2 linked regions of the Homo sapiens genome follow. The protein of the gene in region 2 interacts with the protein of the main gene of each other region in a biochemical or structural test. Each region holds a gene or a part of one and is shown on either strand. Other genes may lie near its edges.

Region 1 (7,043 bases), on a different chromosome or scaffold from region 2:
ATGTATTCCCCACTTCGGGTAAATCTGACAGACTAGCCTTGTTTTTCTCAAATTCCAGAGCCAAGCTTTCAATATGGTTTGTCTTCTTTGCTGGTGTGCGTGAATCTCTGAGCCATAACTGGGGCGTGTGGTGAAACGATGGAATCACGGACTTTTAAATATTAACAGGCAACTTAAAAAAGCCCATTCCAACCACCTCATCCACCAGGTGAGACAAGACGAAGGGGCCGTGGGTGACACAGCCTGTGGCAGGCCTATTTCTGCAGTCCCCTGTCAGGCACATTCCTGTATTTCAATGGGCACCTAACACTTCACCATATCTCCCACGTGGGGAACCAACACTTAAAAGGTGATTTGTGTAAACAGAAACCTCCTTTTCATGCTCATTGATAGGGATAAACAAGGAAGCACCTCTGGAAGAGGTAACACTACTCACTTAAGTTTTAAGGTATCAGCATGTATCCAAAGAGAAGGATTTAATCAAGGGAGGGCTGAAGGAGAGGAGAAAACAGAAGAGAAGCAGCAGAAGGGCAGTGGATGAAGAGGGCGAGGTCAAAGTCAGAGAGGCCTAGGGACAGCTACTTACAGTTCAGGACCTGGACTGGCGCCAGGAATGGACTCCAAGGGGTGAGGGCCCAGCTTCTCCCTGCCTTCCTCCCAAAATATGCAGAGACCTAACTGGATTCCAAGGGATGAGGGCACAGCTTCTCCCCCCTCCCACCCATTTCCCAACATGCAGAGCCCATGGTGGCAAAATCCCCTGGCTCAGGCTAAAGTCAGAACTGGTCTGGTTTCCTGTGTTTTTCAAATCTCTGCCATTTGGGCAGAACGCTTGGTCCTATAAACCAGGAGTCATCAGTATCCACAGAGAAGTTGCCTCAGCACTTGGACCCAAGTCAACTGTGTTTAAAATTTCACACCAAATCTATAAATTACACATTCACATTGTGGGCCAGCCTACCTTTTTTTTCAAATAGTATTCAAGGTATTTTTCTTTTTTTTTCTTTTCTTTTTTTTTTTTTTTTTGAGACGGAGTCTCGCTCTGTTGGCCAGGCTGGAGTGCAGTGGCGCCATCACGGCTCACTGCAAGCTCCGCCTCCCGGGTTCACGCCATTCTCCTGCCTCAGCCTTCCGAGTAGCTGGGACTACAGGCACCCGCCACCACGCCTGGTTAATTTTTTGTATTTTTAGTAGAGACGGTGTTTCACCGTGTTAGCCAGGATGGTCTCGATCTCCTGACCTCGTGATCCGCCCGCCTTGGCCTCCCAAAGTGCTGGGATTACAGGCATGAGCCACTGCGCCCGGCTATTCAAGGTATTTTTCAATACCTTGCTGCCTGGCTACTGCAGTGCCAATTCTGCCATTCCCCCCCGCTCCTCAATTCAGGCATCACCTGAGGGACTTGCAGAGCATCAGGGATCTGGCCCCTCTGAGATCTTGCTGGTCTACTCAAGCCTTTGTACAGCACCAGGCAACGAAATTAAATGTGGGACATGCACTATCACAGAATAACTTTTTAATTGCTTAATTAAATCAGAGATTTAAGGAAGGAGAGATTCAAAAGAGTTCCCTTTGAATGAGAAAAATAAGGATATGCCAAAATGGATAAAGTTACTAATCATGGGAACAAAGCCCTTAGTATTTACATATGATAAAAATGCAGGCCAGTATAGTAAAATCAGTAAGTACATTCTTTAAAATTTCAATTCAGTATATTCCTGAGATTTTATTATACAGGTAGTACTATAAAGAACATAGAAGACCTCATTATCCAACTTAATTCAGACCAGGGTTTGATTAAAAAAATAAAAAACAAAAAACTACCACACAGGACAAAGAAATTGCCATAAAATTGAGTTCCTATAAATGTGTTCCAGTTTAAGTAACTAAGTCCCTAAAATGAGCCTTAGTAAAGTCTACGCTGCATATAGACAGACTTAGGCACATCAAGTATACAGGTGACAATTAGCAAGTGTATAAAGCTATGGTCATTTCGCTAAATGTGTAAATCTAAAGGCAACCAAGTAAAAGACCTAAAAAAGGAAACTGTTAAGTCCATTTGTACATGGATTTAACAGTGAAGCATTTCATTCTTCATGTTTTCACTTGGTGTCTTGAAATAATCCCCTTTCTGTCTCCACTCTCCCTCTTAGACACTGCACCTGCCTTATTTATTTATGAAGTCTGAAGGTTAGTCCTACCTGCTGAGACTAATTAGCCCTGTGCTTTGTATCCTATGCAATCCTGTCTGATTAAATGTACACATTTGTTTTACTTCTTTTCAGGCTCCTTCTCACTCTACTTCTGATATTCTGATTAATATCAAAGTTGGGAGTTACAGTGATTCTCCTCTGCCTCCCCCCCAACCCATTTTTATTTTGCCTGCATCTTATTCTTTAGTGTGCAAATGTGGTTGTGATTTTTTTCCAGTGCAGGGGAATTCGTTGGCCTTGTCAATCTCGGTATCATTATTTTTAGTAGTCTTTCTGAGACTTTAGCCTATAAAACAGTTTTGCTGAAACCCCAAACTCTCTAAATATTACATGGCAAATTTGCTTTCTTTTGGAAACCTCGGTGCTGATGGGCCAGCTGAAGTGCAGGTGAGCTTTTTCAGGGAAGGGTGGGACAACAGTACATCCTGGACTCTAGACTAATACTACTCCTAAGAGGCAATTTGCTAAATCCTACTGATTTATTTTTTTCTTTTTTCTCTTTTTCATGTTGTAGTGTCCAGTCTACTTCTTACTGGGTATTTGCAAAAATGAATTTTCTTGCTCTATCACCCAGGAACATTGTGTTTTGGGAGCTGGGTCTTTCCTCTTTAACATAATTCCATTCCCCATTTTGTAGCAAATCAGTCTGCTCCTCCTCTAATACCTAAAAGTCAACAAATACCTGCCTCAAGCCCCAGGTTTCCCATCTTCTCCCGAAGGTCTTCTAGCATCGGTTTGGTTAGCAATTTCCTGCCAGAGCCACCTACATCTTGATTATTTTGGTCAGTCTTTCGGGGATTTCATTTCAGACCCCCTTCGAGAAACACTGTAGCCCAACTGATCCCAGGGGTTGGTGAACTTTCAGTTTTATTTTCCCTGACGGTGTTAACGCCCAAACTTTTCACCTCCTAAGTCAAAAAGGACTTTGACTCTAGCTCATTTCCTACTACCTCCAACGTCAGTTAAAAAAAAAAAAAAAAAAGCAAAACACCACTCTACATTTAAAAGAATCATATATTTTTCCTTAAGGATACTTTTAATGTTTCTGACATTTAGCATTTGTTTTTTGCATAAAAAGTCGTTTTGGCATATCCATCCTAGTGGGACTTAACATTTCATGAAATGATTCACTACTAATAAACAAAAAAGGGAGGAGGGAGGCCTCATGGGTTAATAGTTTCTTTCATTGTAGATGACCAGGAACTTTGACCAGCCCCTTCACTTCCCCAAGCTCTCTGAAAGTGGAGGGTTGATCTTTCCTTTTGACCACTTTTGTCGCATCCCGTCTAAGGGTGGCTGATTTCACTGCTGAATTAACCACCAAGCACCCCCCCACCCCCTCCCCCAGCCACCACTTTCTCAAATACTACCCTTCCTTTTCCCCCTCCCTTAAGACTTATTTCTAATATTTCTAAAGTGCACTGTTTTGGGCCTCTCCCCATCCCCGCCCCCCAAGTGGGCTTTCCTTCCGCCTTCCTCGGCTCGGATTCCTGACTTGGTCGCCACCCCCTTCTCCTCCTCTCCCACCCCGCATTGTCTTTCTGAAACCGCCCCCTCCCGGAGCAAGTCCCTGCACCCTCGCCCAGAATCCCGGGCTCGCACACACTCCGCGCAGGCCGCTCCCCCTGCACACTCCTCCCTCCGTCTCCCCCCGGCTTCCCCGCCCCTCTCTTCCTCCTTCTTTCCCTCCTCCCTCTCCCGGCGCCCGAAAGGATCATTGTTAGCCGCCCCCGCCCCGCCCACCCCGGCTGTTTATTTATGCACACGTCACTGGGCCGGCCCCGCCCTCCGGCATCTCATTAAGGCAGTGTGTTCCTCTCGCCCTGTCAATAATCTCCGCTCCCAGACTACTCCGTTCCTCCGGATTTCGATCCCCCTTTTTCTATCTGTCAATCAGCGCCGCCTTTGAACTGAAAAGCTCTCAGTCTAACTTCAACTCACTCAAATCCGAGCGGCACGAGCACCTCCTGTATCTTCGGCTTCCCCCCCCCTTTGCTCTTTATATCTGACTTCTTGTTGTTGTTGGTGTTTTTTTTTTTTTTACCCCCCTTTTTTATTTATTATTTTTTTGCACATTGATCGGATCCTTGGGAACGAGAGAAAAAAGAAACCCAAACTCACGCGTGCAGAAGATCTCCCCCCCCTTCCCCTCCCCTCCTCCCTCTTTTCCCCTCCCCAGGAGAAAAAGACCCCCAAGCAGAAAAAAGTTCACCTTGGACTCGTCTTTTTCTTGCAATATTTTTTGGGGGGGCAAAACTTTTTGGGGGTGATTTTTTTTGGCTTTTCTTCCTCCTTCATTTTTCTTCCAAAATTGCTGCTGGTGGGTGAAAAAAAAATGCCGCAGCTGAACGGCGGTGGAGGGGATGACCTAGGCGCCAACGACGAACTGATTTCCTTCAAAGACGAGGGCGAACAGGAGGAGAAGAGCTCCGAAAACTCCTCGGCAGAGAGGGATTTAGCTGATGTCAAATCGTCTCTAGTCAATGAATCAGAAACGAATCAAAACAGCTCCTCCGATTCCGAGGTAGGAAAAGCCCCTCGGGCTGGTGGGGTTTTTTATCTGTTTCCTGGGCTTGGCAAATGTTGCTGAAAGGGGAGAAATCGGGGCTGGGGGCGGCGGCGGGGCCCGGCGGGCGGCGTGTGCGTACGGTGCCACCATTGCAAAAACTTGTAACCCTGTTTTTTTCTACCCCCCCCTCGACCTCGCCGATTCTTTTTCTCCCCCTTCTCCCCCTTCTGCGTGGCGTTTGCCCCTCGCCCTCCCCACCTCCACCCCTCTGGGAAGGCGGAAAGACGGCCTCCGCCTCGCTCCGAAAGTTTCCGAGACAAATCCCGGGAAAGTTTGGAAGAAGGTGAGTACGCCCCGCGCGCCCCGCAGCCGCCCGGAGCCGCCCCCCGGGCCGGCCGCCCCGCGCGCCCCGGCCCCGCGCCCGGCTCGGCCTGGCCCTGCGCCGGCCCGGTCGGGGCGCCCGGCCCCTCGGGGCACTTTCTAAAAAGTTTCTCCTCACTCTCTCCCGCTCCGCGCGGCCGCCGCTGTCCCCTCGCCGCCCCGCCATGTTAGCGGCCAAGAGGCAAGATGGAGGGCTCTTTAAGGGGCCACCGTATCCCGGCTACCCCTTCATCATGATCCCCGACCTGACGAGCCCCTACCTCCCCAACGGATCGCTCTCGCCCACCGCCCGAACCGTAAGTGCCTCCGCGCCCGGCCCCCGCCCGCTGCCCGCCCGCCCGCGCCGCCCGCCGGGCCCCGCATGCGGCCCCTGCCCTGCCCCCTCCCCGCCTCCCCCTCCCCGCCTCCTCCCCTCCCTCCCTCCCCTCCCCCGCTCGTGGCCCAGGAGGCCCGAAACTCTCCAAACTTTTCTGCCTTTTGTGGACTGGATTTGTTTGCACTTCGCCACGTTCTTGCTTTCAGTTTGCTGCCTCGTGATGTTGGGGAGACCTCTCTGTCCAAGCAGGGCTTTGTTGGTGGGGAGGGGGGGGAATCCGAAGAACTTTCCTTTGCGTTCTGGTTCCCCCTCCCCCTTTGGTGGTGGTGTTTGTTTCTTCACCCTGGGAAGATGACTCTGTGGCTCTTCCTTTGCTCTCTCTCCCTCTCTCTCCTTCTCTTCCTTCCCTCTTCTGTGGCGTCTTGGGCTTTCCCCGGTTAACCCCTTGGCTGCCGCTGCGGGCCACGAGTGACTGACTGTGCTGCGCCCGATGCGCGGGGTAGAGAGTGGGTTTCCTCCAGGCATTGGACTTGAGAACTGGCTAGCGCGCAGAGCCCGGGGCCCTGGAGAGGCTCCTTGGCTTTCTCTTTTGGGCGACTATGTATTTAGCTTTCTAGTGGAGATTGCTGGCTCTCGGCCCTCCTTCCCCCTTCCCCTGGAAGGTCACACTTCCCAGATTGGTCCCACCGCAAACTTGGGGGCTCTGAGGCGTCCTTTTCTTTGGCAACCCGCAGGGCCGCGAGCGCCCTGGGCGCCGTGGCGGGCTCCGCTGCCCGGCGCACTGGCTGCGGGCTCTCCCGGGCCGCGCAGGGCAGCAGGGCTGAGTGGGGCGGGGAGGCCCCTGCGGCCCGGATTCTTGGTTTGTGTGCAGCCGGAATGGACTCCTCCAAGCGGACTTGTGTATTTCTAGGGAATTTTGGCGCCTTGGGATGTATGGCGGGGTCGGCGCTCGCCAGCTTCCGTGTAGGCCCGTCGTGGGCCCCAGGGGGGCCAGAGACCAGGGTGTGCGGGCTCAAGGAGGTGCGGGGGCCGAGGGAGGCTGGGGCGCCTCTCCTTCAAGGGAGTGGGCCGCCGATCGCCGGCCACCCAACTTTGGGGGCCCCAGGGCAGCGCGGGGTGCCGGGCTCGGGGGGCGCTTCCTGCAGGGTCGGTCCCGCGCCCAACCCTGACATTTGTTAATACGGCTCATCCCCTCCCCCACCGGCCTGTGCCCCCTGCCCTCACCCTGAACCCCCTCCTCCTCATCCCTCCCTCCCTCTTCTAAGAAGCCTGGATTACGAATCCCTGGACGCAAGACGCATTTGTGCCCGGCTTCCCGGTATTGTCATTTTACACCTTCTCCAGTTTGGTCCCCTACCCCTTATTTACACACACGACTTTTGTTTTTTCTTTTTCGGTAACTCTAGATAGCAATTTGAAATAATGCACCCACTGTTCAGCAGCCATGGATTCGGTGCTAATGGCCGAGGGCTTGCCGGACGGGAGTCGATCAGATCTACAAGTGTTTTTAAGCATTAAAATATTAACTATCAGGTTTGACTTGCTTTTTTGGGCCCTGGCAAAATGGCAAGGGCATGCTAGACCGGTCATTTTTTTTATGGCTAGGGAAGAGAAATAATTATTC
Region 2 (7,984 bases):
CCCCGCCGCCTCCAAAAGGGGGCCCTAGGCCGGCGGCCCCAGCGGCCACTTCGGCCGCCTCGGCCCTGCCGTACAGCGCTTCCTCCTCCTCCACGTGAGCCTCCACGTGCGCGTTCAGCTGCTCAGAGCTGGGGAAGCCCTTGCCGCACGGAATGCACACGTACAGGTTGTCACCGAAGCTCTCGGGCTCGCCATAGGCCAGGTGCGGGCATGGGTAGCCCTCGAGGTGGCCGCCAGGCGGGCTGGGGTCCTCGCTGCTACCGGTCTCCTCGCTGCTGCTCTTGTAGTCGTCGCCGTCGCCGCCCGCGCCGGGCCCGTCCAGGCTGCCAGGGTAGCGCGGCGGCGGCGCCAGGCCGAGCGGGGGCCCCCCGGGCGAGACGGCCGCGTCCCCACCACGCTCTTCGCAGCGCTCGCTGGGGGAGCCGCGCTCCCGGCCCAGCTCGTCGCCATAGCTACCCAGGCCCGGCTCGTGCTTCATCCAGCGATAGAGGAGACTAGGCCCGTCGGGGCGGCCGGGGGGCTCGGGTCCCGGGCTGCCGCTGCCGCCGCGAAATGGGTCGGAAGGCGGTGCGGCCTCCTCCAGCTTCTGGAAGGGCAGCGGCGGCAGCGACGGCAGGGCGAGAGGCGGCTCCTTGTAGGCGGCGGGGCCGGCGCTGGGAGGGCTGTCCGGGCGCGGGGGCAGCTCGCGCTCAGCCAGCGGCCGCTCTGGCGCCGCGGAGCCCGGCGGGCTCTTCTTGGACAGGTCCAGGCCACAAAGAGGGGAGCAGCGGCGCTCCGAGGCACAGAGTGCGGCGGCCGGGCCGGGTCCCGACGCGTACAGCTCGGCGCAGTGCGTGTTGACCGCGGCCTCTGGGCCCGAGGGCGGCTCCGCGGCAGGCGGCGGCGGAGGCCCGACTGGGGACGGGTAGCAGGCCTGGATGACCGGCGTGGCGGCCCGCAGGCCCCGGCCCGGCCGACCATAGGGCGCGTAGCCGCCGCCGCCGCCGCCGCCGCCCCGCAGGTGGCAGTACTTGCCGTGGCGCTTGAGGCGTTTCTTGCACAGCGCCACGAGGTCGGGGATCTGCAGGTAGCTGGCGGCGGCCAGCACGGCGCCCAGGCTCGGCTCAGCCCCCGGGGCCACGGCCGCGGCCGCAGCCGCCTCTGCGCCGTCAGCCAGGCGGCCGGTGTAGATGAAGTCCAGCACCAGGCGGAACACGGCCGGGCTCACCATGTCATGGTCCAGGTTGAGCAGGTTGTCATGCACCACCAGGGACTTGAGGTAGGCGCTGCTGGCCGCCAGCACGTTCTTGTGCGCGCGGAAGAGGGCGTTCTGCACCACGATGATCACGTCGCACAAGAAGCCCTTGGTGCGCTGGTTGTTGAGCTGCAGCAGCAGCTGCCTGGAGTGGCCGGGCGCCTCCATCGTGTCCAGCATCGTCTGCCCAGCACACTCTCCTGCGGGGACACACACCGGCCGGGTGAGAGCCGTGCGGCGCCCTGGCCGCCTGGCCCCAGCCCGGCACTTCTCCCCTCCACTTCCCCTTCCCTCAGCTGAGCGGGGGCATCAGCCCTGCGGCCTGGGCACCGGCGAAGGACCGGCTGCCCTCTGGAGTGGGAGCCCAGGCCGGCCCGCCCGGACCAGGAGAAGGAGCAGGAGGTGAGCGGCCGCCGGTGGAGGGGAGGCCAGGGCGGCCTGCACGCCCCAGGGCACCTGGCTGGGTGCTGGGGCTTCCGAGAAGAAAACTGTTCAGGCGCAGTGACCCTTTTGGAGACAGTTACCCGATTTAAGTAAAATGTCCGCTTCAGGAAAAGTCATTCAGGGCGGAGAACTTTACCCAAGTAGGGAGAAAGGGAGCCGAGGAACCAGCGCCTCCCGCCTCGGGAGAAGTTGCCCCAGTTGGGGGAAGTGATACGGAGGAGGGGAGCGCGGTGCCCGCCCTGGCGCCGCCCTGGCCGGGGGCTGTCAACCCTCGGTCGGGGCCCGGGCGGCGGCCGCGCGGGGAGCGGAGGCAGCGGCTGCCGTGGCGGGCAGAGCGCGAAGGCCGGGCCCGGCGCGGGGAGGGCGTTATATCGGGGCAGGAGGCTGAGGCAGGAAGCAGGTGGGGGGGAGGGGGGAGCCACGCAGCTCCCAGGGGAGGGAGGGGGCAGCGCCCCGGGCGGGCACGGCGCACAGCCGGCTGCGGCCCTGACCCGGGCCTGCGCCCCACCCGCGTCCCGGCCTCGGCCTGGGCCCTACACGCGCGGGCCCGGCGCCTCCCTCCGCGGCTCCCCCGGCCCCTTCTCCCCCGGAACTCCGCCGCCCCAAACTTGGGGAAAAGTTTTCCAACTGCAGACAGGGCGGGAGGAGTGCGCCGGCCCCAGGCCCTCGGCTCGCAGCTCTTCCTCGCGGCCCCCAAATCCGGCGGCAGAGCCCGGAGCCGAGCCCTGAGCTCCCCTGCCCGCTGCTCGCCCGCCCGACCCCGTTCCCCTCCTGGCCCGCGGGGCCCCGCGGCCCGTTACCTGCGGTCCCGGCGGGCCGGGCTCCCCTCCCCGCGGCGGTGGCAGCTCTTAGCCGATGCCCCACCCGCCGCTGCCAGGCCCCGAGCTGTGCCAGGGCAGCGCCCCTGCCAGCCCCGCCCGCCAGCTCCCCTTCCCTTCCCTTCCCCTCGCCTCTCCAGCCCATGTGCGGGCAGAGCCGGCCCCGGGCCGCTGACCCCGCCGTGAACCCGGCGCGGAGCCGCGGCCCGGTGGTCCTGAGTCCGAAAGGGACGACACCCGGAGCCCTGAACGCCAGCCGCCAGCCGCGATGGGGCACCCGCGCCAGAAGATGCACCCGAGGCGGCCGACGCACGAGGACCGGGCTGTCCCGGGTCCCCCGTCCCTCCCGGTCCCCGGCTCGAGGACCCACCTGGGGGGCATGTCGAAAGCCCCGGGCCCGGCTGACGGCGGATCCAGGGGGGACGTGGCTGCGCTGCCCTCCGCCCGCCGGGCCCCCGGTCGGTCTGTCCTGCTGGTCCGTCCTCCCCGCGTCCTGGTCGCGTCTCAGCCCCGCCGCGCTTTCCGCACACTCTTATCTGGAGCGGCCCGGGCCGGCGGGCGCTGCTGCGGCTATGGCGCCACCTCGCGGGCGCGCAGGGCTCTGCGCGGCAGGCCGCTGCCTTCCTCCCGCGCACCTGAGCTGGAGGCGCACAGATGCTGAGCCCGCGGGGAGGGGCCCACCCTACCCGCAGGTTCGCCCTCCCACCTGTACCCACCTGGGACCCCGACCCCGGACACGCGAGTCCCAGAAACCCTGGGGCTTTGAGCTGAGCGCTCCCATGTACGTATTTCTAGGCACACAGCCCCAGTTCGGAAAAGTCCTGCCCGCGAGCACGGGACTCGGGTGGTGGGGGAGAGGTTATCCTGCGCAGGAGTAGCCGAGCTCTCCTGGAACTCCCCGTAGACATTACTGTACGGCACTGTCCACTTGGACGCACTCCCCAACACACCCACCCTCACTCAGGCGCATGGATTCGGTGTGCGCGGCATAAACTGATTTGTCCCCAGCCCTATCCAGGCACTGATACTAACAGGCGCTCATGTTTCCAGAAGCACACCCGCCCCTTCCCGCAGCCCTAGCGCTCTGGGATACTCCAGGGGCAGCCACGTAGGGCCCTCCGGGAACCTGGGCAGAGGTGTTACCCACACAGCCCGCCCTGAACTTTCGGGTCTCCTAAAGGAACCCACGACGAGTCATCAGGGCGACTGGAAGTGGCTGGACAGCGCCTCCGGGGGGTCCAAAGAAGTAACCATGGGGCCCTAGAATCCCCCTGTACGCCGTTTTGAAGAATCCCGCGTGGACTTCTTCTCCAACCCACCCGCCCGAAGGAAACAACAGGGGCGCCTGCGGCTGGGACCCCGCAAGGTCCCGCGCCCCACGTGAAGGTCAGGTTTGTGTGGGTGACGTCTCTTCTGGGAGAAAGGGGACCCCGCACTGTCGCGCCGCTGCTCGCAGTACTACTCCGGAAGTGGCCCCGTGCAGCCCCGCCGCGCACCAAGCCTCCTGCGAACGCCGGATCTCCGCGGCCCACGCTCCGCCTCCGCCCCGCACCTCCTGACCCCCGCCCACACACGGCGTGGAGCGGGGGGGGGGGGGGTCCCCGAGAACTCCGCCGCTTCCGATTGGCTGCGCCTCCCTCCACCGCGGAGCGCGAGGGGCTGGGGCGCTGCGTTACCATGGCAACCGGTGAGGTGCGCCCAGATCCTGTCCCTCCGAGGCCTTGGAGAGCTTAGCAACCGCGCTCGCCGCCCCCCGCGCTGTCCTCTGGCCCCCATGGCCCCGCCAGAGGTACCGGCTGAGTCACCGGGCGAGGGGCAGCGGGCGCGGCTACCAGCGGCCCCCGAGCGACACCAAGGTCTCGGGCGCCCCCCGGAGGCTCCCTTTGCTGCGCAGGCGACTTCACGGCTTCGGTGCCTGGCGGAGGCTTCGGTCCAAACGAGTCCGCCTGATTCCCGCCGCTGCCTGAGTCCGCCCCATGTTCTGGATCCATCTTACCCACTCCCTCTCCCATGTCTCCCCATAGCATCCTCACTTTAGAAGCAGTGAGGTCCCAAAGAGGAAAACGGAGGCCTCCGGAGCTGCCGGTCTCTAGGGAAGGCGGACCCCGACATCTCGCCCGAGGGACGTGCTGCGGCCTGAGGTGGAAGTTACGGAGTGTTGAGGGGAGGTGGAGAGGCTCCTCATAAGTGCTCCTAGAGCTGGGCTTTGACGGATGAATAGGAGTTCTTCTACCGAGCAGGAAGGCATTTGTGAATAACAGAATCCCTGGAACAAAGGCTAGCGGCAAGAAAACTGGAGCTCTAGTAGGCCAAATCCAGACTATGCAGGGCCTCTCTGACCCCATCTCTTTTATCTTTTCTCTTTTTGATAGAGTCAGATCCCCCACCCCCGACTTCCAAAGAGCCCCTCCGCCCCATGTATCTTGTGCAGTGGAGTCTGTGCATTGCTAACCTGCCCCAGGGGTCTGCTGTGCCCACAGTCTTTATTCTTCAGCGTTCCCCCACATCCGCTCCCCAAGTTAACTTACTGCCCCTAACCCCATCCTCAAGCCCTCATTGCTTCTGTAAGGGAGGGTCTCACAGCCCTGCCCCAGCCCAGGCCCCTAACCCCATCCTCAAGCCCTCATTGCTTCTGTAAGGGAGGGTCTCACAGCCCTGCCCCAGCCCAGGCCCCTAACCCCATCCTCAAGCCCTCATTGCTTCTGTAAGGGAGGGTCTCACAGCCCTGCCCCAGCCCAGGCCCCTAACCCCATCCTCAAGCCCTCATTGCTTCTGTAAGGGAGGGTCTCACAGCCCTGCCCCAGCCCAGGCCCCTAACCCCCTCCTCAAGCCCTCATTGCTTCTGTAAGGGAGGGTCTCACAGCCCTGCCCCAGCCCAGGCCCCTAACCCCCTCCTCAAGCCCTCATTGCTTCTGTAAGGGAGGGTCTCACAGCCCTGCCCCAGCCCAGGCCCCTAACCCCCTCCTCAAGCCCTCATTGCTTCTGTAAGGGAGGGTCTCACAGCCCTGCCCCAGCCCAGGCCCCTAACCCCATCCTCAAGCCCTCATTGCTTCTGTAAGGGAGGGTCTCACAGCCCTGCCCCAGCCCAGGCCCCTAACCCCCTCCTCAAGCCCTCATTGCTTCTGTAAGGGAGGGTCTCACAGCCCTGCCCCAGCCCAGGCCCCTAACCCCCTCCTCAAGCCCTCATTGCTTCTGTAAGGGAGGGTCTCACAGCCCTGCCCCAGCCCAGGCAGGGTGAGGACCGCCTTGCCCTCCTGTGCACTTCACTCTTCGACCTTTCTCTCCCTGCCCCGCTCTTCCGGCCATGCCTTGCACAGCCCTCCCCATCCTGGTCCAGCTCCTCGTCTGAACACACTCCTCTCATTTAGACCCTTCCTCCATCTCGATGGAGCCAGGCTGGGCCAGGACCATGCATTTCCCCGCTCCCAACCAGGGGAACTGCCCCACAAGTCATGGGCTCTCCCTGCCAATTCTGGTCTCCGGGAACATTAACTTCTCCAGGAAACCGTCCTCCTCATCCCCTGGGGGCCCCTCTTGGCCAAGCTGCTGGTCTCCTTCACTCTCTATTACCCTAACGTGAGCTCTGGGAGCGTCCATCGTGCCACAAATGGTCCGAAGGTGGGTCCTGGATGCCAGGCTCTGGAGCGTGGCACTGACAGCCTTTCCTCTCTCCCTTGCTGAGGCTGCCCATTCCTCTCACCCCTACCTCTGGCGCGTTCCCCCAGCTCCCTCATAGAGGATCCCGTTGCTCATCATTTCTGGGGAGGTTGGCCCACCTTCCCCAACTTCTCTGCCGTCCCTCGGGTCTCCAGCTCCTGGGTGGTACCTGAATCCCCGCTGGGCCTTCCCTCCCAGGCCCAGGTTCCTCCGCTAAAGACTCCTGGGCTACTTTGGGCTCCCCTACTCTTCTTCTCCCGGCCCCCGACGCCACAGCCCTCGCTGCGCCCCAGGCCCCCACGGGAGTCCAGCTTCCTCTCCTGCCCACCCTGCAGGACGAGAGGGTGGCGACACCGCAGTGGCCTTGCGGGGTGTGACGGCAGAAACGTCAGGTCCAGGAACTGAGGAGGGGGAAGGGGCTGCCACGTGAAGACCCCCAGGAGCCGCGGGGCTCCGGAAGGAGAGCGTGAATAAGCTCGAAGGGCCCGCCGCGCCCCTCCGCGCCGCCTCCCCGGCCCCAGGCCCGCGGTTCCGGAAAGTTAACCCCTTGTCGGCTGGGCAGGGGCGCGGCTCCCCCTACCCCGCCGCCGCTTCCGCGCCCCCTCCTCCCCTCCCGGTCGCCTCGGTCCCCACCCCCCGCCTCGCCACTATAAATAGCCCCTTTTCCCATTTCCTAAATTCCCCGCTGACGTCGGCAGCGCGTCAGTGTGTAGGAGCCGCGGCCGCATGAATGAGCCGCCGCACGAGTACTACGCGCGCCTATAAAAGCCGCCGCGCCGGCCAGGCTGCGGGAGGCGACCGGGCAGTGGCGACGCGGCCCGCCAGGTAAGCGGGACGGACCAGCCGCGGAGGGACAGATGTGCGGACACGGACGGGAGGACGAGGAGGGGACGGGCAGGCGGCGGGTGGGGCGGCCCCTCCGGGGTGGGGATGGGGGCGGACGGGGGGCACCGGGGTCCCCTCGCGGCTGCGGAGCCGGGGCCAGAGACGACACGAGCCCGCGCAGCACCTGCCGGCGCCCGATGGACACGCAGCTACTTCGGAGGAGCATCGAGTGGAGGACCGACCTCGGAGACCCCCCCCCGGCTTTCTTGGGGCTCCTGCGCCATTCTCCCAGGAAAGTGAGGCGAAGGTGCTGGCGCCCCAGGAGACGCGCCCCCTCCTCTCCCTCCCTGCGGCGCGGTGACTCAGCCTCGCTGCCCGGGCCGGCTGAGCGGGGGTGCAGGCGAGAGACGGACGCCCACCCCCGCTTCCCCGGCCCTCCTGGGACCCCCGCCCCGCATGGCGTCGGGCGCCCCTTCCCGGCAGGTCCCGTCCAGCGGGTCCCGCGGCGCCCACGGCTTCCCGCCTCTGCGAGCGGAGCTGTCCTCTCAGGACCGGGGGGGCGGGGCCTCCCAGGTCCCGCCCCGCCCCCACGCCCCCGCCGGAAGTGCCCCCTCTGGGACATCTTTGACGTCACGGCCCTCTGACGTCAGGGGCCGCGTGCCTGGTCGCGAGCGCCGGGCGGGGCAGGGCGGGAGACGCAGGGGAGGCGGAGCAGCAGAGCCCCCAGCCGGGGCAGCCGGGGCGACCGGGGCACCCCGCCCGGACAGCGCGCCGGCACCTTGGCTCTAGACTGCTTACTGCCCGGGCCGCCCTCAGTAACAGTCTCCAGTCACGGCCACCGACGCCTGGCCCCGCCCCAGGACCGCGGCCCCGGCCGCCGCCGCCGCGCCCGGGGACCCCCAGTCCCCGTCCCTCAGGGCCCCGCCCCCGGCCCGCTGCCTGCGCCGCCGCTGTCCGCGGTGCTGATCAACGCAGGCGCCGCCATCGGGCCGCCCCGTCCGGGTCC

Evidence for each region. The genes of interacting proteins can lie anywhere in the genome.
Region 1: the proteins of HIC1 (region 2) and TCF7L2 form a complex in vitro, tested with the Homo sapiens proteins (one study listed by BioGRID).

Annotation. Positions count from the first base shown.
Region 1 is NC_000010.11:112,946,209-112,953,251, forward strand, and holds the start of TCF7L2 (transcription factor 7-like 2), read left to right. Parts: upstream 1-4,038; 5' UTR 4,039-4,548; coding exon 4,549-4,737; exon of another isoform or gene 4,738-4,799; intron 4,800-4,998; coding exon 4,999-5,065; intron 5,066-5,274; coding exon 5,275-5,399; intron 5,400-5,569; exon of another isoform or gene 5,570-6,134; intron 6,135-7,043. UniProt on the Homo sapiens protein: Participates in the Wnt signaling pathway and modulates MYC expression by binding to its promoter in a sequence-specific manner. Acts as a repressor in the absence of CTNNB1, and as activator in its presence.
Region 2 is NC_000017.11:2,050,121-2,058,104, reverse strand, and holds the start of HIC1 (hypermethylated in cancer 1 protein), read right to left. Parts: upstream 3,003-7,984; 5' UTR 2,867-3,002; intron 1,796-2,866; coding exon of another isoform or gene 1,759-1,795; intron 1,435-1,758; coding exon of another isoform or gene 1,415-1,434; coding exon 1-1,414. UniProt on the Homo sapiens protein: Transcriptional repressor. Recognizes and binds to the consensus sequence '5-[CG]NG[CG]GGGCA[CA]CC-3'. May act as a tumor suppressor. Involved in development of head, face, limbs and ventral body wall.